Linked DNA regions of Homo sapiens: regions 2, 3, 4 and 5 are each reported to be linked to region 1. The links are microRNA targets in miRTarBase. Many come from high-throughput screens and were not tested one by one. Region 1 holds a microRNA gene; each other region holds the end of a gene's coding sequence. Distances are between the middles of the regions.
Evidence for each region. The annotated mature microRNA hsa-miR-6079 reads UUGGAAGCUUGGACCAACUAGCUG and lies in region 1 at 2,732-2,755, opposite strand. An mRNA with a match to its seed (bases 2 to 7 or 8) in the 3' UTR can be bound and repressed. Matches are read on the target gene's strand: a 7mer-m8 pairs with bases 2 to 8, a 7mer-A1 pairs with bases 2 to 7 and ends in A, and an 8mer does both.

Region 2: the mRNA of CORO1C is a reported target of hsa-miR-6079. Seed matches in the 3' UTR shown: 7mer-m8 at 1,550-1,556.
Region 3: miRTarBase lists UBXN2B as a target of hsa-miR-6079. Seed matches in the 3' UTR shown: 7mer-A1 at 1,006-1,012.
Region 4: miRTarBase lists EPHX4 as a target of hsa-miR-6079. The part of its 3' UTR that is shown has no 7-base or 8-base seed match.
Region 5: the mRNA of XPO4 is a reported target of hsa-miR-6079. Seed matches in the 3' UTR shown: 7mer-m8 at 2,251-2,257.

The regions. Positions count from the first base shown.
Region 1 is chr1:43,837,412-43,841,411 of GRCh38, reverse strand. MIR6079 (microRNA 6079) reads right to left here and starts at 2,790; the gene lies at 2,729-2,790. It overlaps ST3GAL3 (ST3 beta-galactoside alpha-2,3-sialyltransferase 3), which reads right to left. Exons shown (of 12, transcript NM_006279.5): 5 at 3,101-3,193. RefSeq lists an enhancer at 1-730.
Region 2 is chr12:108,643,591-108,647,740 of GRCh38, forward strand. CORO1C (coronin 1C) reads right to left here. Exons shown (of 11, transcript NM_014325.4): 11 at 1,519-3,932. The coding sequence ends at 3,813. LOC105369968 (a long non-coding RNA gene) reads left to right here. Exons shown (of 3, transcript XR_007063449.1): 3 at 1-3,075. Among named protein-coding and RNA genes, the nearest start is that of MIR4496, 9.9 kb to the left of the region's middle.
Region 3 is chr8:58,446,683-58,450,832 of GRCh38, forward strand. UBXN2B (UBX domain protein 2B) reads left to right here. Exons shown (of 8, transcript NM_001077619.2): 8 at 707-4,150. The coding sequence ends at 869. Among named protein-coding and RNA genes, the nearest start is that of UBXN2B, 37 kb to the left of the region's middle.
Region 4 is chr1:92,062,982-92,067,131 of GRCh38, reverse strand. It overlaps EPHX4 (epoxide hydrolase 4), which reads right to left. Exons shown (of 7, transcript NM_173567.5): 7 at 3,594-4,077. The coding sequence ends at 3,846. It also overlaps the pseudogene LPCAT2BP. Among named protein-coding and RNA genes, the nearest start is that of SETSIP, 10 kb to the left of the region's middle.
Region 5 is chr13:20,780,372-20,784,521 of GRCh38, reverse strand. XPO4 (exportin 4) reads left to right here. Exons shown (of 23, transcript NM_022459.5): 23 at 603-4,150. The coding sequence ends at 800. Among named protein-coding and RNA genes, the nearest start is that of EEF1AKMT1, 8.5 kb to the right of the region's middle.

The DNA.
Region 1 (4,000 bases):
TTCCACCTAGATTTCAGAGGATGTATGGAAAAGCTTGGCTTCCCAAGCAAAAGCCTGCTGCAGGAGTGGAGCCCTCACAGAAAACCTCTACTAGGGCAGTGTGGAGGGGAAACATGGGATTGGAGCCTTCACACAGGGTCCCCACTGGGACACTGCCTTGTGGAGCTGTGAGAAGGGGGCCACCATCCTCTAGTCCCCAGAATGGTAGATCCACCAGCAGTTTACACCCTGCACCTGAAAAAGCCTCAGGCACTCAACGCCAGCCCATGAGAGCAGCCACAGGGGCTGCACCCTGCAAAGCCACAGGGGCGGAGCTGCCCAAGATCTTGGGGGCCCACTTCTTGCACCAGTGTGCCCTGAATGTGGGGCACAGAGTCAAAAGAGATAATTTTGGAGCTTTAAGATTTAATGACTGCCTTGCTGGGTTTCAAACTTGCATGGGGCGTATAGCCCCTTTCTTATGGCTGATTACCCCTTTTTGGAATGGGATGTTTACCCAATGCCTATACCCCCATTGTATCTCGAAAGTAAGCAACTTGTTTTGATTTTACAGTCTCATAGGTGAAAGGAACTCATTTCCAGATAAGAATTTAGATTTGGGACTTAGTATCAGGGGACCTGCCCTGATAATCACGTAGGTTCTTTTCTATTTTTCCTAAGCGTCGGCCAGCTTGAGAAATAAAGGGACGGAGTACAAAAGAGAGAAATTTTAAAGCTGGGCATCCGGGGGAGACATCACACGTTGGTAGGATCCGTGATGCCCCACAAGCCACAAAAACCAGCAAGTTTTTATTAGGGATTTTCAAAAGGGGAGGGAGTGTGCAAATAGGTGTGGGTGACAGACATCAGGTACTTAACAGGGTAATAGAATATCACAAGGCAAGTGGAAGCAGGGCGAGATCACAGGACCACAGTAGGACTTTTGAGTTAATGCTAGAATGAGTTAAGATTTCGCAGGGACTATTGAGAAGGGATGACTGTATGTTGAAATGTGAGAAGGACATAAGATTTGTGGAGGCCAGGGACAAAATGATACAGTTTGAATATTTGTCCCTGCCCAAATCTGATGTTGAAAGGTAATCCCCAGACAGGCTCAGTGGCTCAAACTTGTAATCCCAGCACTTTGGGAGGCCAAGGTGGGTGGATCGCTTGAGCCCAGGAATTTGAGACCAGCCTGGGCAACATGGCAAAACCCCACCTCTACCAGAAATACAAAAATTAGCCACGTGTGGTTGCATGCGCCTGGAGTCCCAACTACTTGGGAGGCTGAGGTGGCTAATTGCTTGAGCCCGGAGGTCAAGGCTGCAGTGAGCCAAGATCGCACCACTGCACTCCAGCCTGGGCAACACCGCAAGACCCTGTCTCAAAAAAAAAAAAAAAAGGAAGGGAAAAAAATGTAATCTCCAATGGGGCCTGGTGGTAGGTGACTGGATCATGGCGGTGGTCTCTCATGAATGACTTAGCACCATCCCCCTGGTGCTGTTCTTGTGAAAATGAGTGAATTCTTGTGAGATCTGGTTGTTTAAAAGTGCGTAGCACTTCCTCTCTTTCTCTCTCCTTCACTCACTTGCTCCTGCTTTTGCCATATGACGTGCCTGCTCCCCCTTTGCTTTCTGGCATGATTTTAAGTTTCCTGAGGCCTTCCTAGAAGTGAAGCAGGTGCCAGCACCATACTTCCTGTAAAGCCTGATGAACCATAAGCCAATTAAACCTCTTTTCTTTACAATTTGCCCAGTCTCAGATGTTTTTTCATAGACATGCAAGAACGGCCTAATACACAGTACAGAATATTAAATACAGTTATGTTCCCACTTTTGGTAATATTGGCTGTCTCTGGGGAAGGAGTCTGGAGTGGCAGTATATAACCTTTTGTACTGTTTGAGGTTTTTTTGTTTTGTTTTGTTTCCACATGCCTGTATTACTTTCAATTAGAAAAAGCAAACGAAACCTATATACTGGTAAAGGAAAACTCACAAGTGTCTGGGCTAAGGACTGAGTCGTATAGGCTTGCAAAAACCTGTGTTAAGAATACAGAACACAAAAAGCCAGACACAGGGGCACTCAATAAATAGCTGGAGGAAGCAAAATATTTGGAATCAATTCAGAAGGCAGACCCTGGACAAAGAGATCTCTATCTGAGCACCAGATACTCAGCCAGCATAGCCCTTGCTTTACACAAGGAGCTAAGCTGAGACTGCTCACGTTAGAAAAGAAAGGGAGCATAAAAACCAAATATACCGGAGTCACTTTGGGGCGAGCTGTTTCTCAGCATTCCTTTGCAAGCACATTACGTGTCCTAACCTCAGCCTTCTAAGGGATGGGAGGCAAGTCCTTCCCCCAGTGAGCAGAGCCCACCCCTAGCACTCCTCTGGTGGTCCAAGTGCCCAGACAATCCTAGGCAGCCTTTCCTTCAGCCCCTCCAAATCAGAAGGAACGAAATGACCCTGACAGTCTCACTGCACTCCAAAGACAATCTCAGCACTTCAGCTCCTTTTCCACACCAAGGCTTCAGAAAAGAAAACCAAAAAGGAGAAGGTGGATCAGTAAGCAAGACCCCTTAGCAGCATTCGGTAAAAGGAACTCCCTGGGTTATGCACAGATTCTTTCAGGTGCCAAAGAAGTCAGCAGCTCCAGAATGCAAAATGGACAGAGAAGGAAAGTGCTAAAACTCAAGACAGCCTCAGAAATTTCTCTTTGTTCCCTGCTTTATTTGGATATGCCTCCCTGAAGCCAGCTAGTTGGTCCAAGCTTCCAAAAAAGTTTCTTTGGCCACTGATACTAGGTCTAGGAGCTTCTGTGCTTGGCAGCCTTCTCTGGCTGCCTCTGGATACCTGGCTTGCATGCGGCAACCATGTAGGTTATCCTTCTGCAGAAACAGGCTGTGCCACAAGGTGCAAGCTCCAGAGGCAGGATGGGAGTAAGGCAAAGCAACGGCATGGAGTAGGACTGGAGTAGGAACCAACTTAAAGGCAGAGTCCTTTCCAGGAACCCATGGTTTCCAGAGCATAGGAGAACATGACTGGCTGTGAGAGGCAGAGTTTCTGGCTCTTGGACCCCAGACCAGGCTGTCTAGGCAGTGGAGGGAAACAGGAGCACTTACCGGGGGAAGATGGCCGTCATCAAGGCTGAAGCATAGCCAGGCTTGCAAGCTCCCTCTGAAAAGTTTGCGTACTTGGTGGCTAATTCAGCAGGCCTATGGGAAGAGAAGGAAAGTTACAGCTTGCCAGGCACTGAGCACTGAGTGGGTTATTAATTCATAAGGAGCTGTAGGTGTTTAACCCTTTTTTTTTTTTTTTTGAGACGGAGTCTCGTTCTGTTGCCCAGGCTGGAGTGCAGTGGCGCAATCTCGGCTCACTGCAAGCTCCGCCTCCCGGGTTCACGCCATTCTCCTGCCTCAGCCTCCCGAGTGGCTGGGATAAGGTGTTTAAACCTTGAATCAAGTTTCATTCCCTACAATCAGCACTTCAGGCACTTTTCCACATTAAGGCTTTAAGGGTAAAAACAAAACAAATCCCCAACCCTAAAGGAATAGATAGATAAATAAGTCAGGCCCCTGGATGGTATCTGTAAAAGGAACTTAACTGGATTCTCACAGATTTCTTTTTAAGAGACAGGGTTTCATTATGTTGCCCAGGCAGGTCTTAAACTCCTGAGTTCAAGCGATCCTCTCGCCTTGGCCTCCCAAAGTGTTGGGATTACAGGCATTGAGCCACTGTGCCCAGCTCAAACTCATAATTCTTTGCAGGAAGCCTGAAACCAAGGAAACGAGGAGCTCTATCAAGGCTCCAATACCCGGGGGAGTGGTGCTTGGAGTTCATAGAATACAGCTACTCAGGCTTTGATACTCAGAGCCCCTGGCCTTTCCACCTTCCTTGTATGTTCCTACATGGCCAGCCTCATCTGCTTTTATTCTCTCCACTCAGGCTATGATCCATCCAGTGGGAACCATTCCCCAGTAGTGGGAACTGTCCCGAACAGTGACCGAATATAGACACGATAA
Region 2 (4,150 bases), not on the chromosome of region 1:
ATATACTTTCATGTTTCAACCTAGGTAGGTATATATTTTAAACCCAAGTTGGAATTGACTTTATTTTACTATTTTTTTAATGTTTCCTATTCAATACTCTTTTTAAATGACTTTAAATAATGGAACAGAATTATAACATATGGATATGACAAGTAACTTACTGACCCCCTTCTGCAGAGTTGATTTTACTCTTCTAATTCCTGAATATACCTCCCACTAGTTCCCTGGGACAAAATTTCCAAAGGTGAGAATCTTGGGTCTTAAGAAAACCTTTAAGGCTTTTGATCCACTTGCCAGACTGCCCTCTGGAAAGGCTGTCCACCCCGCACATACCCGCTTTTCGCAGGAGAGGACTGCCACCCCTACATTCTTTGGCAAGGGACTTCTTTTTAACGAATAAAAGAGCACAAAGGGCACTGTCCGGCCTGGACATCAAGGGTTGCCCGTCTGAAGCAGGAAAGGCGTGCCCTTGACGGTGACTCATGTCCGTGACCCACTGCCAGCACTGGGATACTTAATGTGCCCGCAGAAAGAGAAGGGCCCACTTAGAGTTAACAGATTCTTAAGAGCCAACAAAGAGTTTTTCTGGGTGTAGAATACCAAGTACAGCAAGGGAAGTGACCTTGAAAAAAAAAATGGAAGTTCCCCCCAGACGAGGTCTGGCTGGCTGTCTGGGGCCAGCATGCTGACCTTCAGGTCTTCTGGCAAAGAATCAAGGTGGCCCGAGTGAGAAAACAAGTTAGTCATAAACAGACCACCACGCGTCTCCTGGCTGACTGCGGGCACCTCGGGTCTACAGAGAGCCCTGCCAACTTCTACTTCCTGCAGCCACGAGTGGACCAAGAACATGGCAGCCATTCTTCTCATAGACTAAAGCAACTTTAAGATAAGGCATTTGAGGAAGGGGAGCTTTATGCTGACCATTCATCATATTCAGAAAAAGCAAACAGTGGGAAATTCTTTGCTACAATCACTGAAATGTCACGAGACAATGTCATAGTGCGAAAGGGAAGCCCTGCAATTCAACTGACCCTGGAAGCCTGCTGGAATAAAAGTCACAGCTGAGCCAAGAGAATTTTGCTTCTATTGAAGAAAAAGTGCTTTCAAAGACTCTGTCAGAAAATCAACTCATAATAGTAACAGTAGCGGCCATGCAGCGAGGGTTGTTTGTGTGGCCACACAGGTATTCCTCTCATCTGAACTACATGGAATTATCATCCTCCTTTCAAGAAAAGGGACTCAGAAGGATTAGGAACCCCATCCCAGGACACACCGCTGGCAAAGGTCTGAGGCAGGATCCAAAGGCTCAGGTCTGCTGGAAGCCAAAACACAGTGCTTGACTGGCTTGGAGACCTCACTTGTACTTGAACTGAGCCACCCACACGCGCTTCCCCTGTACTTACCCCCGGAGAGGAGTATGGCACCGTGCTCGTCCACCAAAGTCAGAGAAGCTATGTCAGGCAGAGAGGTGGGGGCTGCCTCACAGACAGCCAAGGCGTGAAATAAACACAAACACCATTTTGTAATCAATGATTTTTATCTCTGAAAATGGAAGCAAGTGTTTTGACAGAACACTATGGCCACTCTATAAGAGCCGACCTAGGAGTAATTCACTGTCCTCTTCTGGGATGTCATGGCTTAAAAAAAAAAAAAAAAAAAGACAAAACAGGAAAATAATCCACAATGCTTTGGGCGCCTACTCTGAGCTTGGCTGGGCATCCATTCATTAAATAAGTCATAAGCTACAAACTAAGATCAGGGTAACTTTCCCTTGCCCTCCTGCTTCTCTTTGAACCACATGCCCTACGGTGTTTCACCACCATCAACAACTTTACTTCATTAATTCGATATCAGAACCTTAAAACACTACTGAATCTTAGACAAAAGGTCCTCAGCAGATTACATTGATAAAGAAACAAATACAGATTTGAATATAAGTCATTGCCATTATTGTTTTCTTTACATCTCATGATCCACTTCAATATTAAACACATACATACACACACACAAAACCACATCAAACATTCAGATGCCCTGAAATTGTGGAGACAGCACTCCCAGTATTGGCTGGATAAGAACATGGTCCTTTTTCTACACGGACATTACTCCAAGTTCGGCTGTCACCACACTCTGCCCTCACCCTGGCTCCCTGCATACAGACGTTTCCAGCCAGTCCCATGCCCACACCAGCACGAGCATGTGCAAGAATTCCCTTCGTGGTCCCAATGGCACTACACATTTCACGTTCAATCACAGACAGCCCTTCCAAAACAGAGGCTCCTTAAATCTTGTTTCCCAAGCATGCACTATAAGAAACTGGAAACGGGGCAAAGTTCCAGCTAACCGAGGAATGAACAGGTGACCAGAGCTCAGTCTCTGGCCCCCTCCGAGTCCGGGGAGCCTCTGTGCTTTGACGCAGCCTTGGTGAGAGATGGAGAGGCAGGGCAGGTTAGTTGTGCGGAGGGACATGTTTGTATGCATTAAAGCTACAGCAGAGGTCTGTGCTCCTGTTTCTGCTTCACTCTCTATCATTCTCCTCAGTCTCAATACTCATTCAATCGCACCCTCTGGCCTTGTCTTAGCTTAATGTGGTTAGAGCTAAAAGGCAGGAAGGAAAGAAGGAATGGCTGGGGGAGCCCTGAGAGAGGTCGCAGCACATGTGAGGAAGAGGGTAGAGCAGGAGCTTTGTTGGTGGAAGGAGAGCCACTTCCTCCTCCAACACAGCATGGGGACAGCACAGGGAAACAGGATCACCCAGGGCAAATACCCCTCTCCACATGCCCACATTTTTAGTCCCCACCACTGTACTCAAGAGCTGGGCAAGCTGCTGAAAAGGGCAAGAAGGAACACTCAGCAGTACACGTCTTCCTGTCCTGGGCACCCTTGTCAAGTATTGACCAAAACCTGAAACATGATGTTTAAAGTGATGAATGCAATATGATCCTAGGTGTGTAACAAACTGCAGAAACACATGCTAGTTTGGGTTAGATTATAATCATCTGAAGCACAGGATAACCGAGAAGCAAAATTCCATTCTGGTACAAACACCCAATTTCTAGAAAAGAGAAAGGAAAAGAAGAAATACGACGTGAGCTTTTTTGATCAGAAGACTCCATGAAATGAGAGCGGTGGTAATATGAATCCACGTGATTTTTCAAGTCTTCCTGTTGTACAGTCATCAAAATGACCAGGTTTGTGCTGCAAAGGAGCCAGCACCATGTGGCTACTGCTTTGATTGTTCTCAGATGAATGTTTATACAAAATAATATCTTATCTTCATTTAGTTTATAAACATACACAGTGCTGTCCCTTTCAAATTAAGGAAAAAAAACCACACACACAAATACTGCAAAGTAGCAAAATACAAAGGAAAACAAAGCTACTTTTGGTTTTGGCAACATTAAAAAAGAAAGAAATATAAAAAGCAATGTGGCATTGGTCCCTATTCATTAAAAAAAAAAGGGTACTTGGGCACGACACAATCAGAATTAGTTTGTTTTCTAAAATTCAGAGTATCTGGGATTTTAAAAGTAGCACTTTTTAAAAAGTTCAACAAGTCACATAACACTTAAAACATCAAAAAAGCTTTCTGATAAAAAGCTCAGCTTTTAAATCACGTTTTGTTTCTGCAAATTTGGGAGACAAATTGAGTTCTTACTGGAATGTGGCCTATCGCTGGTTGACAAATCTGAAATGGAATGTCTCCAAATGGCAGTGCCTCCCTTTCCGCCCTCCCTAGGACCACACCAATAACCAGCTCCCAAGCACAAGTTCTTGCTCCCATTTTTTCTGTAGGGGTGGGGGTGGGACCTTCAGGCTGCTATCTTTGCCATCTGCTGTTCTAACTTGGAAATACGCTCATCTTGATTGCAGATTGTGTCTTTTATAGATTTGATCTCTTTTAAAATCTCATCCAACTTGGCTTCATTTTGCTAAGAAAACAAAAAAAGGAGGCAGTGATTAAAATGCAGTAAACAAAGTTCAACACTGTTCAAAACTTGTAAGATATAAAATGTAGTTTTCTATTTTGCAAACGGCAAGCCATAGTCACCAAGTTGAAAAGAGAAGTCAAAGCCCTACTATGTCTGGGGCTTTGAATGCAATGAGCACTGGCCGATCTATCTGAGATCCCGTGGCAAAACAACAGTGT
Region 3 (4,150 bases), not on the chromosome of region 1:
GTTTTAGACTCACCTTGCCACAGGCCAATCATAGTTACCTTTTTCTGGGTCATATGCTGCTAACACATTTTATACTCCGAAAAAAGTACAACCTGCATTTTTTTTTTTTTTTTTTTTTTTTTTTTTTTTTTTTGAGACAGAGTCTTACTCTGTCTCCCAGGCTGGAGTGCAGTGGCGGAATCTCAGCCCACTACAAACTCCGCCTTCCAGATTCAAGCAATTCTCATGCTCAGCCTCTTGAGTAGCTGGGATTACAGACAGCCACCACCATGCCCAGCTAATTTTTTCTGGTTTTAGTAGAGACGGGGTTTTCACCGTGTTAGCCAGGCTAATCTTGAACTCCTGGCCTCAAGTGATCTGCCCACCTCTGCCTCCCAAAGTGCTGGAATTACAGGCGTAAGCCACCGTGCCCAGCTGGACCTGCACTTTTAAAATAACAACATTAGTACACTTACTTTATTCATAACTTACCTGAAGATTGTTTCCATTTTACAGGAAAAGTAAATGTTAAGTACACACTAAAGTTACTTTACATTTTAACTGAAGCCTAAGATAAATCCTTCAATTGAAATACTATATATTAAAGAAAGTTACAACACCTTTATATAAAGATTAAAATTTTGTGATTTTTATTATGATTCAGTTTTAAGTTTACATGAAAATATGATTTTTTATATTACAAATTATTTTTGTCTTATTTCTTCAGGATCCTGGATGTCCGGAACTTTATTGTACAGTCTCGTCCTGAATTTGCGGCTCTTGACTTTATTCTTGTGACTTCATTTCCGAATAAAGAGCTAACAGATGAAAGCCTGACACTGCTAGAAGCAGATATTCTTAACACTGTGTTACTCCAGCAACTAAAATAATATTGTTCCTGTCCATGCAGTAGCATGTGGGAATAGATGATGTGCCGTATTAATAAGGACAATACTTCAGCATTAAAAACAGCCAAATTATTTTTATTATTTTTACAGATAAATTTTGGTTTTATTGTTATTCTGTCTTCCAATCTGAATATAGACAAATTTGGATTAGGAATAGACCTTGAGATAAGTATGTTTGAGTTTTTAGTTGAAGGACTGGCTTATGTTGATAGTTTTTGGATTTCTAGGCAAATGAGTTGTTACATGCTTAGTGTTAATGTAACAACATTTGTTTGCAGAGAAAAATGAACAAAACCCCTTTTTGATAAATGCATTTGGTAAAATTTGCACTAAAGTTTCTTGATGCAGCATTGACCAACAGCCATTAAGAAATCTTTTGATCAAATAAGTTGAAAATTTGTCTATAATATATACTGAAACGTGTCTTTTGATTTTGAAATTGTTTGATCATACAATAATTATTTCTCCTATTAAGATTTTACACATCCTTTTTACTTACTGATTTAGATATATTACTAGTATCAGAAACTACAGTTTTGCCTTGTATTTTACAGAATTATGACTGTTGTGAACTTAAACAGAAACACATAAAGGTCAGCAATTCTTTTTTTTTTTTTTTTTGATATGGAGTTTTGCTCTTGTTGCCCAGGCTGGAGTGCAATGGCATAATTTCTGCTCACCGCAACCTCCGCCTCCCAGGTTCAAAAGATTCTCCTGCCTTAGCCTCCCAAGTAGCTGGGATTACAGGCATGCGCCACCATGCCTGGCTAATTTTTGTACTTTTGCTAGAGACAGCGTTTCTCTGTGTTGATCAGGCTGGTCTCGAACTCCGAACCTCAGGTGATCCACCCACCTCAGCCTCCCAAAGTGCTGGGATTACAGGCATGAGCCACCACGCCCAGCCTAAAGGTCAGCAGTTCTTAAGAAGATATGGTAAACAGCAACAATATTTTAAAATCAAGTAATTACAGTTCCTCCCAGAGCTTGCGTTGATCACATTCATTTATTCATTCAACACATTTTTCTAGGAAACTCACTGTATACACTAAACACTATTCTGTGTGCTCAACCTAGAATGTCTTCTCCAGAACAAGACTAGTGTAGAAATACAGGAATGTAAATTCTGTCAGACGGACTAGATCTAAAGAATTACCAGCATAAATGTTTGCATTTCTGCTGAAGCCAGAAGCTTTTCCTTCTTCCTAGACACCATTTCATCCTTAATTATTACTTCTGGTTAGTTTTCCATTGCCACCATAACAAGTTACAAAATGTGGCTTAAAATAGCACAAATTTATTATCTTCACAATTCTGTAGGTTAGGAGTCCAGGTTAAGAGTTTCGCGGTGCCAAGATCAATTTGTTGGCAGGGTTGCATTCTGTTAGGAGGCTCTACAGGAGAATCATTTCCTTGTCATTCCACCTTCTACAGGACATCCTCATTCCTTGGCTTGTGACCTCCTTCTTCCATCTTAAAAACCAGTGCTGTTTCATCTCTATGACCCTTCTGTTACCACATCTCTCTGACACCAGTGTGGAGAGGTTCTCTGCAGGACTCATGATTAAATGAGGCCCACCGGATATCCAATCTAGGCTTATCTCCTTGTCTTGAAATCCATAGTAACCTTAATTACATCTGCAAAATCTCTTTTACCATCTAAGGTTACATACAGGTTTGGAGATTAGGACATTAACATTTTACATGGAACATTATTCTTGCCTACTACAGTTCCCACCCACCCCCCGCTCCACTCCTGTGTTAAAGATTCAGATTCATCACAAATAAATTTACATCACTCATAGGTGCTCAAAAGTCACAATCCATTATTACAGCATCAACTCTAAATCCAAAATCTTATCTGAGTCTCACCAACTCAAAAGTCTCAAATCTCACATTGAAGCCATCTAAATTAAGTTTGGGAGAGGATCTGTGTGTGATTTCTGGGACATAATTCCAACTGTGCACTTGTGAACCTAGAAAACAAGTTATCTGTTCCCAAGTATGATGGCATGACAGGCAGACAATAATAGTTACACACGTTCCTGTTCAAAAAGCAGAAACAGATGGAAAAAGGAGCCATCAGCACCAATCAATTTACAAAACCAGCGAGGCACCCTTCTTTAAGTTTCAAGGCCTGGGAGTAATCTTCAGCTCACTGCTGTTCTCTGGGCTTGTTGACTGTCTCAGAGTCATCTTTACTTTTTCACAAAAGGTAGCACACGTTTGCAGCTGAGTATCAACTTATCAGTTTGTTCTTCTTTTATATTCTCTAAAGCTTTCTGTTAAAAATGGTGGTGCTTCTGCTGCTATAACGTTGTCAAGAAACTTGTGGGTCTTTTACATATGTCACAGGGATGCACTCATTTAGATAGGAGGCTCCTCACGTATCTTTCCTGGAAAATCCTGTCTCTGTTTTTGGCTTTTTCTGAAATAGCTGAGAGGATCTATGATTCACACCCTTAATATCTTCAAAGAGTCTTGTGTGTGACCTGATATTCAGACCTTTTGATGTTTCTGAAGTATTAGCAAAAGGTTATACAGCCATATCTTCATCACTTTCTCTAGAGTAAAGGCTGTCCTGACGGTGAATCTTAGTTTTAGTGGCTTTTGCCATTTGAATAGGCCGCGAATTTCCCAAATCATCAAGTCCTGGTTTCTTTATATTTAACAGGTCTTCCCTCAATCTACCTCTTTCCACATTTTACTATAATCAGCAAGAAGACAGCAGGCTGTACCTTCCACAGCTTGCTTGGAAATATCCTCAGCTAAATATTGAAGTCATCACTTAAAAGTTCTGCTTTACACATAACGGCAGGACACAACTCAGCTTAGCTTTTCGCCACTATGTAACAAGGACTCCTTTCCTCCACTTCTCCAGTAACATATTCCTCATTTTTTACCAACAGTCTATTCATGATGATTTAGATATTCTATGGCAATCGAGGTATTCTCTATTATGCTCCTTTCTTCAAGGCCGCCCTAGCATTAACATTCCATATTTCTACTAACAGTCTGTTTAAGGCAGTTTAGCTTCTTTTCTGGCATGCTCCTCAGAATTCTTCCAGCCTCCACCTACTGCCCAATTCCAGAGCCACTTTTCTACTTTTAGGTATTTGTTACAGCAGCACCTCAAGTACCTAGAAAACTCTTTTATGCCTGCTTCTCTGCCAGATGACTTGAATATGGTACTAGATTTGGAATTCACCTTTCTCCAGGGTCACTGTTTATTTCAAAGAGGTGAATTTACCTGTGCTAGGGTTTTC
Region 4 (4,150 bases), 48 Mb from region 1:
GGATGGGGTCTTTTTTTTCTTCATCATTTGGGATATAAACAGGCATAAACTCAACTTCTACCCTGGTGAAGAGTTGACTGAGTGTCAACATACAGGCCTGTAAGGCTGTGAATCCCTGCCAGGTCCAGATTGCCATGTCCAGGGTGTTTGGGTACCTGAGCAGCACTGGCTACACAGGAACACCTGGACAGAAGGCCCCTGGTTTAAAAGTGACTAGACGGGAGCGATTGATGCACACACCTTCTAGGAAAATCAGAATCTGTGGCCACTTCTTTCCAAATGTCACTCACTTCAGGATTTCATCCTTAGTATTCTTCCTGGAATGGGAGTCTTCTCAAATCACAAGCACCAGCTGTGTTGACAGTAGGAATTTCCCAGCCAATGGGATCTGCACATTTTGACTTGCAGAGACCACTGAGGGTAACCCTGCCACCACACAGGGGATTGAGTCAAAGAAAGTGGACCGTGGTGCTGTAACGAAGATAGGGGCCTTGTCTTGGGTTGCCTTTTTCCCTTTCACTTTAGCCAGGAACCCAAGTAAAAAGAAAGCCACCTGAAGCATGAGCTTGAGTACTGGTTTCACCAGTTTTTTTTCTCCAACTCTTGGCAGGGTTGCAGGATTTGAGCAGGATAGCCAAAGGTGGAAAGCATGGCCACTGGCCAGATGAAGAGGAAGGCGATGCAGGACATTCGTACCCACGAGGATGATGCAGGTCCAGCACCATGCACAGAGGCGTGTCTGCTGAGGATACAAGGACTTGATTAGCTCCTGCGTGATCCCAGACTCCTTCGCCTCCAACTCAGAGTCTGTGGATGCAGAGCCGTGAAACCGACTTAGCAGACCCAGGCTGTGTGTAGCCTGGATTTGGGGGCAGCCTTTGACATGCACCCTTCCCCACATCCAACTGCTTTTTCTGTTTGCACATAATTAGAACTGTTAGAGGAAATTGTAGGTTAATAGAAAATGCTGCATTACCTTTAAAATCAGAAAAATCAAAGATGGTAAATGATGTAACAGGAGAATTTGAATCATATCAACAGCACATTCTTTCTTTCTTTTTTTGCAAACATCTTGCTTTTGACATATGCCTAATAAATTATTTTCACATAGCAATTTCTGATGTTAAATTAGGCATATATTATATACTACTAGGGATATATTAATTTGAATAGATGAATATTATTAATAATTACAACTTTTAATTTAGGTGCCATTACCTGTTTTTATTTACTGTGAGCTGCTTTGGCAGCTAGTAAATCAAATTCACTTACTTGCCCTACCAATAGATTTCTACAGAGATAGTAATAACTGTTTATCCTAAGAGGTTTAACTCAAGATGGCACCCTTGAGGCTTTATATCTGTTACAAGTACTTTTCCATATCTATTAAAAATTAGAGTACATTCATTGTAATAGGCCGGAATTGCCCATGGAATGTTTGATTGATAAATTCTTAAAATTAGTCCACATGAACTTGTCAGCTTCCTAAACTGACATAAGTAGCAACAACAACAAATCTTAAAATCACCTTTGTCAGTAACAGGTTTTTATTAAAATAAGTCAGGATTACTTTACTGTGTCAACACGTCCCATTCTTTCCCTTGTTGCTGCCCTTCTGGAGGGATCAAGAGGGAAGCAACAAGTTGGTATGAACCAGGATTTTTCTATACCTTGTGGCATTTGCAACTCTGACAATGCTCTATAGAATATTCCTATGTTTACTAATGGCTAATTTGAATTCCTTTTCCCTCCCAAAATTAAAAGTCAAATTGTAGGTTCCTGAGAGATATGGCCATCTATTGAAACACACCAGATTACTGCTGAAACAGGAAGAGTGGCGTGGATACCACAAGTCTGCTAAATGGTATCTGGTGTAAGTGGGATCATGGGCTTTACCACCAGATGGCTCTAGGTCAGATCCTAGCTCCAGAACTTACACTATGGGCATTGGCAAAGTTACACGTTAAATCACATTTTTACTATTTATAAATTGGTGATACCTACCTTGCATGTTGTTACGAAGCAATGTGTTGTATAGAGAATTGGATTTTTGTTGTAAATACAACTTGCTGTGATACAGTAATGAGAATTCTTAGGGACATTCTCCTTTGTTCTGTCACGATCAGAACTATGCTTAATGAGGGAAGCAATCCTTTCACCAATTTAGGGCTTATTTGTTCTGTGATGTGATTTGGCAGTGTTACTGGTTGCCTCCCATGTTAAAGGGGAACAACCCAAAAGAATGAGTAGTAGTCCCCTGAGTTGGTATTGTTCTCTATTCTGTAACTCTTTTCAACTCTTACTTATAATGTTCATTTCTACTCTTGAACCTTTATTTAATTTGACTGCATTCTATGTATGCGTCTTTTTTTTTTTTTTTTTTTTTTTTTTTTTTTTTTTTTTTGCTCTTGTTGCCCAGGCTGGAATGCAGTGGTGCAATCTTGGCTCACTGCAACCTCTGCCTCCCAGGTTCAAGCAATTCTCCTGCCTCAGCCTCCCAAGTAGCTGGGATTACAGGCATTTGCCACCATCCCCGGCTAATTTTTGTATTTTTGGTAGAGATGAGGTTTCACCATGTTGGCCAGGCTGGTCTCGAACTCCTGACCTCAGGTGATCCACCCATCTCAGCCTCCCAAAGTGCTGGAATTACAAGCATGAGCCACCACACCCAGCCCTTAAGGCTTCTTATGGGAAAGTTCTATGTTACCACCTTATCTTTCTTTTATATTCCCCACCCCCCCGCAGTGCCTAGCAGTGTGCCAGATATATTATTTATTCATTAAGCAAATGTTTGAGTGCCTACAATATGCCAGGCCCTTAGTCTAGACTTGAATATGTATCAGTTAATAAAACAACAAAAAAATCCCTGCCCTGTGGAGCTTAGATTCTAGTGCATATAAGATGTGTAATATTCAATTCTCGTTGCATTGAATGGGGTAAAAGGATCCTTTCCTTCCTTTTCCCTCTCCCTTTCCCTTTCCGTTCCAACAGGGTCTCACTCCATTGCCCAGGCTGGAGTGCAATGGCCCAATCATGGCTCACTGCAACCTCAAGCTCCTGGACACAAGCGATCTTCTCACCTCAGCCTCATGAGTAGCTGGGACTTCAGGTGTGCACGCCTACGCCTGCCCACTTTTATTTTTTATTTATTTTTGGTAGAGATGAGGTTTTACCATGTTGGCCAGGCTGGTCTCAAACTCCTGGTCTCAAGTGATTCTCCCGCCTTGGCTTCCCACAGTGCTGAGATTACAGGCATGAGCCACCACGCCCAGCCAAGATGTCAGCTTTAAAAAATGGTTTAATGTTCCCAGTATAAATAGTATATGGCCCATTTTAAAAATGCATATTCATTTAGCTATATTTGCCTTCAAACTAATAGATATACTATAAATCCAAAGAGATTCGATAATATAACTTTTTAATGGTTAAAAATAGTAAAAAGAATTTTTGAACAATAGAATGAAAATTTATATTATTTCAGGTTTGCCTTATAATATGGCACAGCTAATCTTTAATATACATTTGTAAAAGGCACCATATGTTAACAGAGTAAAAAAAAGCAAGAAACCAAAATGGAAGCACTTACTCCAAACTTCCTTTTTGTACAAGTGTATATATTTTAAGGCAGATGCTTGTCTGTGCAAAATACACCAGAAGAAAATCAACATTGTATTATATGTTCACATGATCTCAGATTTTTTTCAATACCATTTGTCAGGATATTTATTTATGATAAAGCACATTAAAACAGTTTTTTTCTAATAAAACATAAAGAAGTTGATGAACAATTTTTAAAAATTATTTAGAGATTTCATTACAGACCCTTCATAGAAGATAAAGAAAAGTCAATCTTTTTTTCTTGTTTCTTCTTTTAGAAATGTCCATATCAATTTGTTCACTATGTCAGGTTGGTCTTGCTGAAGCCAATGACTGGCTTCTGACAAAATAGTTAGCCTGAAATAGTTTTTAACATAAATCTTTGTGACTTCAGCCATCTCAACCTCCATGAATGCGTCATTCTCTCCCCACAGTAGTAGTGTTGGAGTGGTCACCATGTGATGTTTGAGAGGCAGGCAGCTATAAAAACAAAATACATGGGCTTGAGATTCACTGTCAAAGTTAAAATGACATTTTCCTATAGTGCCCCAGT
Region 5 (4,150 bases), not on the chromosome of region 1:
TCCTCTTCCTGCCCTTTCTCTAAGAGCTGCTGGGCACAGTGCTGGTTTGGAGCTTTCAGAGTGCCCTGCTCCACTTGGAGAAGGCACTGGAATATATTTCTCCGCCCCGTCCTCCCAAAAGACTCCTGCCTGTCCTGTCTTTGTGCACATTGCTGTCCTCAGAACTGGGTGGACCAGATATCTCTATTAACCTCTGGGGAACTATTGCAGACTTAGATTATGTGTCAAACGCAACATAAATAGGAATAATGTGCTTTGAAGAGGCAGCACAACAAAGTTGATTATCACATGGGTCTTGGGGCTAGATTGGTGGACTCTTGCTTGATCTGGGCCATATCACTTCACCTCACTGAGTGTCGAAACCTTCACCTCTGGAATGGGAATAGAAACAGTACCTGTCTCGAAGCATTGTTGTAAATGATAGATGAATTAATCCATGTAAAAGGTTTTCAAACAGTAGTACTTAAATGCTGAATTATTCTAAATGTTAACTCTTAAAAATGTGTCCCTGCCTTTTAGAACCCCACAGTCCAGTAACTGATAAGATCTACTTGTATGATATTCTAAGGAGGATACTTGTGTATACTTTATCTCTTCAATAGGCTGAATATTCTGAACTGGTCGAAACATTACTATCAAGTCAGCAAGACCCAGTTATTTACCAGAGATTAGCAGATGCCTTCAACAAGCTCACTGCAAGCAGCACTCCTCCTACGCTGGATCGGAAGCAGAAGATGGCCTTCTTAAAGAGTTTAGAAGAATTTATGGCAAATGTTGGTGGTCTCCTTTGTGTAAAATAAACAACAGAACTTTATGCTTAATTTAGATCCTTTCTGCAAAGTGCACTGAATTGCTGAAAGTTGACTTGAGTCTTGTCCTATTCCTCAGTTCATTTGGCCATTTTGGATTTTGGAGAGCCTGAAACTTTGATATGTATGTAATACAGTGAAACAGGAGAGGTCAACTTGGCATCAGCTTCTGCTGTTAAGTGTTAGCCACAATCTGTCATATATATGTCTTTTAGATTCTGAATGGTGATTTAAAATTTTCAAAATGAAATTCCATATATGTGCAAACAGATATGGGCACCACGAAATACATATGCAGTGCCTTTTTTCCTTTTAACATAGGTGGCTAGCCAAAGTTTAGAATTTTTGTCATTAAATATGAAATGGATATATGCTAGGCAGTGTTTCTCAAAATCTCCATAGATCGCCTGCATCACTTGAGGAGCTGGTGAAAAGGCAGATTCTTAGGCCCAACTGTAGACCTTCAGAGTCAGAATGTCTGGTTGTTGGGCCCAGGAGTCTTCATGTTAATAAGCTTCTCCCTTTCGTCACCCCAAAAGTTTTGAATCAATGAAAGAGACATTGAAAACTCTTAAGAGGTTTTGTGCTTTCTAGCTTTTCCTCCCTTTGATGATTGGGTTTTATAATTCAGCAGGAAGGGGAAACATCACCAGGGGTTTGTTGGCTTTTTCTTAGCTTGCTTTCTTGCTTGCTTGCTTTCTTGCTTTTCTTGCTTTCTGTCTCTCTCTTTCTTTTCTCTCTCTCTCTCACATCAACCCAGTGCTGCAGGTTTTGTGTAATACAAGTCACTAATCATACTCTGATGCCTGAACTTGAGGAGGAAAATACATGTATATTTTTGTTCCGTAAAAATAACCTTAGGAACTGTAGCCATTTCATTGCCTTAATTTTAAGAGGAAAATACAAAAACAGCTGATTTGTTTTAGTAAGAAACCACGTCTTGATGCTTCAGAGTTGGTTTAGGGTGTTAGCTGCTATGAACCTGTTGCCCCTTTCGATCGTGTATTTATGTAGGTTTATCAGTGAAATGAAAGGCTTGTTTCCGTCTAGTCTAACTTTTTGAGTGTGTTTCTATCCAGCCACATAGCCCATATCTACTCTAAATGGCTTGCTTAAGCAATAATTATTTTAAAGGATGTGAATCACTGATTCACACAGACTATTGCACGTTGGGGCATTAGGGGCAATAATTCTTATCCAGACATGGGAGCCAGTGAATTTAATTTCAGAGATTAAAAATTCACTTTAGATCCTCTAGTTTGATCTCTTAATCAGGATTTTTATACAGCTGCCAGGCTCCCCTAATTCAGTGTGCCAGCTTACAATGTGGAAATGAAAGCTAATTTATACACAGCAGGCATATGAAACTCCACTCATTGCAGTACTTTCACAGCACAGTGACAGGTAGAGGACTCTGGCACAGGTGCACTCATGAAACTCTGCTTCCACCATGTTCCTGACACCTATCTATTAAACCATTCTGCAAATACGGTTTTTCTACCTGATTGCATATAGCATATGTGTCATTACATGTGATGCTGTGCAAAACTTTGTATAATTCTGTGTTATTAACAGTTAACAAAACTGGAGCATCTGAATTACATCCAACCTGTGCATGTGATGTTAGGTAGATGTGAATGCAGGGCCTTGGGCCATAACTTACATTTCTCTCAATTTGATTAGCTTTGAGTCACAATTAAGGGGAAGCAAAAACATCTTGAAAAGACTGCTAGGAAGGAAATTAATATCAGTCATCCAGAAGTACACGTTTCTGTATTTTAAAAAATACTTTGATGCATTTATTTTTAGGTGTTTTTTTTTTCCCCTTAAAAAACTTGAAGTGATATGCAGCAGTAATCTATTTGTTTTGCATTGTTCTTGGTGTTTTGTGTTTCCCAGATCCCTCAAGCTTTCTCAGCTGTTGTGAATTATGTGTATCTGTGTGTGTGCTAAGTACAGTCTCTTTACCAAAGGGCACTGAAACACACAATTGACTGGACAGGTCCACGCGCCATGACAAAACTATAATCAAGTTATTAAAACTAAAGAGGAGTGGGAAAGGAATGCCTTGGTAAGTAAAAAGGCATCTATATTTAATAACTTTTATCCAGATGGCAACATATTTGCAAAATTTGCCCAGATCCTATTACAATACTAAAAATAGAAAATTTCACCTCCATATTCCTGAGGTGTAATTTCATTAGACTAGTTTTAGTTTAAAAAGACCTTCTTCAGATTGGACCAAATAATACTTATAAGATCAGCAGAATGTTGAATATTAGCTCACTGGGGTGGGGAGAAGCCACTACCATTTTTTAGGTGATGGGGATGCCACTGAGTTGCAACGGCTAGACCTTTTCAGGGTGGTTGTGTCCATGTTTGCCTGATTGGATGCTTATTCACTTTGTGTTTTCTTTTGTTTTATTTTGTCCAATTTTGTCTTTAGCTGTGTTTATTAACTTCTCCGGTCTTGTTTTGTTTTAATGCTCTTGGCCCAGTGGGTGTCAAGAACACTGGCTTAATTCAAGTCAGTTGATTTTTTTTCTATTAAAACTGTTGTTAAAATATTTTTTAAAACAAAAACATTATTTGTGCCCTCTTTTATATATGTCAAAGGGACACTGTCAAGTATTTCATTTTTAGATTTTTGTTTTATAAAATTTCTGTTGTTCATATAGTATCCTTTAACCTCTAGTTTTCCATACATCCTTTGTTTGTTTCTCATTTTATTTTCCTTGACCCATTTATTTCCCAAGGCACAATCACTAAAGACTTTGTACTTTCACAGTCTGTTAATGTGGTAGCACCTGTAACTGTGTTCTTGTTCTGTTAAAAGGATTGATTTGCTTTTATAGTCCTTGTGCTGGATGAGTGGCTGCCTCAGTAGCAAAACTACCTGACAGTATTTGACAGTGTCCTTTCCAGCACCATTATTTGGGTCTTTCAGGGTGGCCATCTCTGTTAGAAGACAGTAGCATGTTAACATCACTGCATTGAGTTTTTGTCTGGTGTAAAGTATGACTTTTAATGTAAACAAACTGCAGGTTTTTTTCAAACTAATTTTAAGAATTTAGTCTTATTTCGTTGTAAACTGTGTATCTAATTATATTACATTACTCTGTTCAGATGGGATGGTTACTACCACTTGTCCATGATTTTCATTTGAAAAGCAAGTATCTATATCATTTCCCCCCAGTCAGCATTATTTAACACTCCCCTTAACTGTCTTTGAACTTTCTCTTTTAACAAAAATGTCAAGTCTTTATAGTTGTAATATCACCATGTTTCCCATTTCTGTTAATACTTCTATGAACCCCTAAAGTATTGAAGGGAACTAGCTG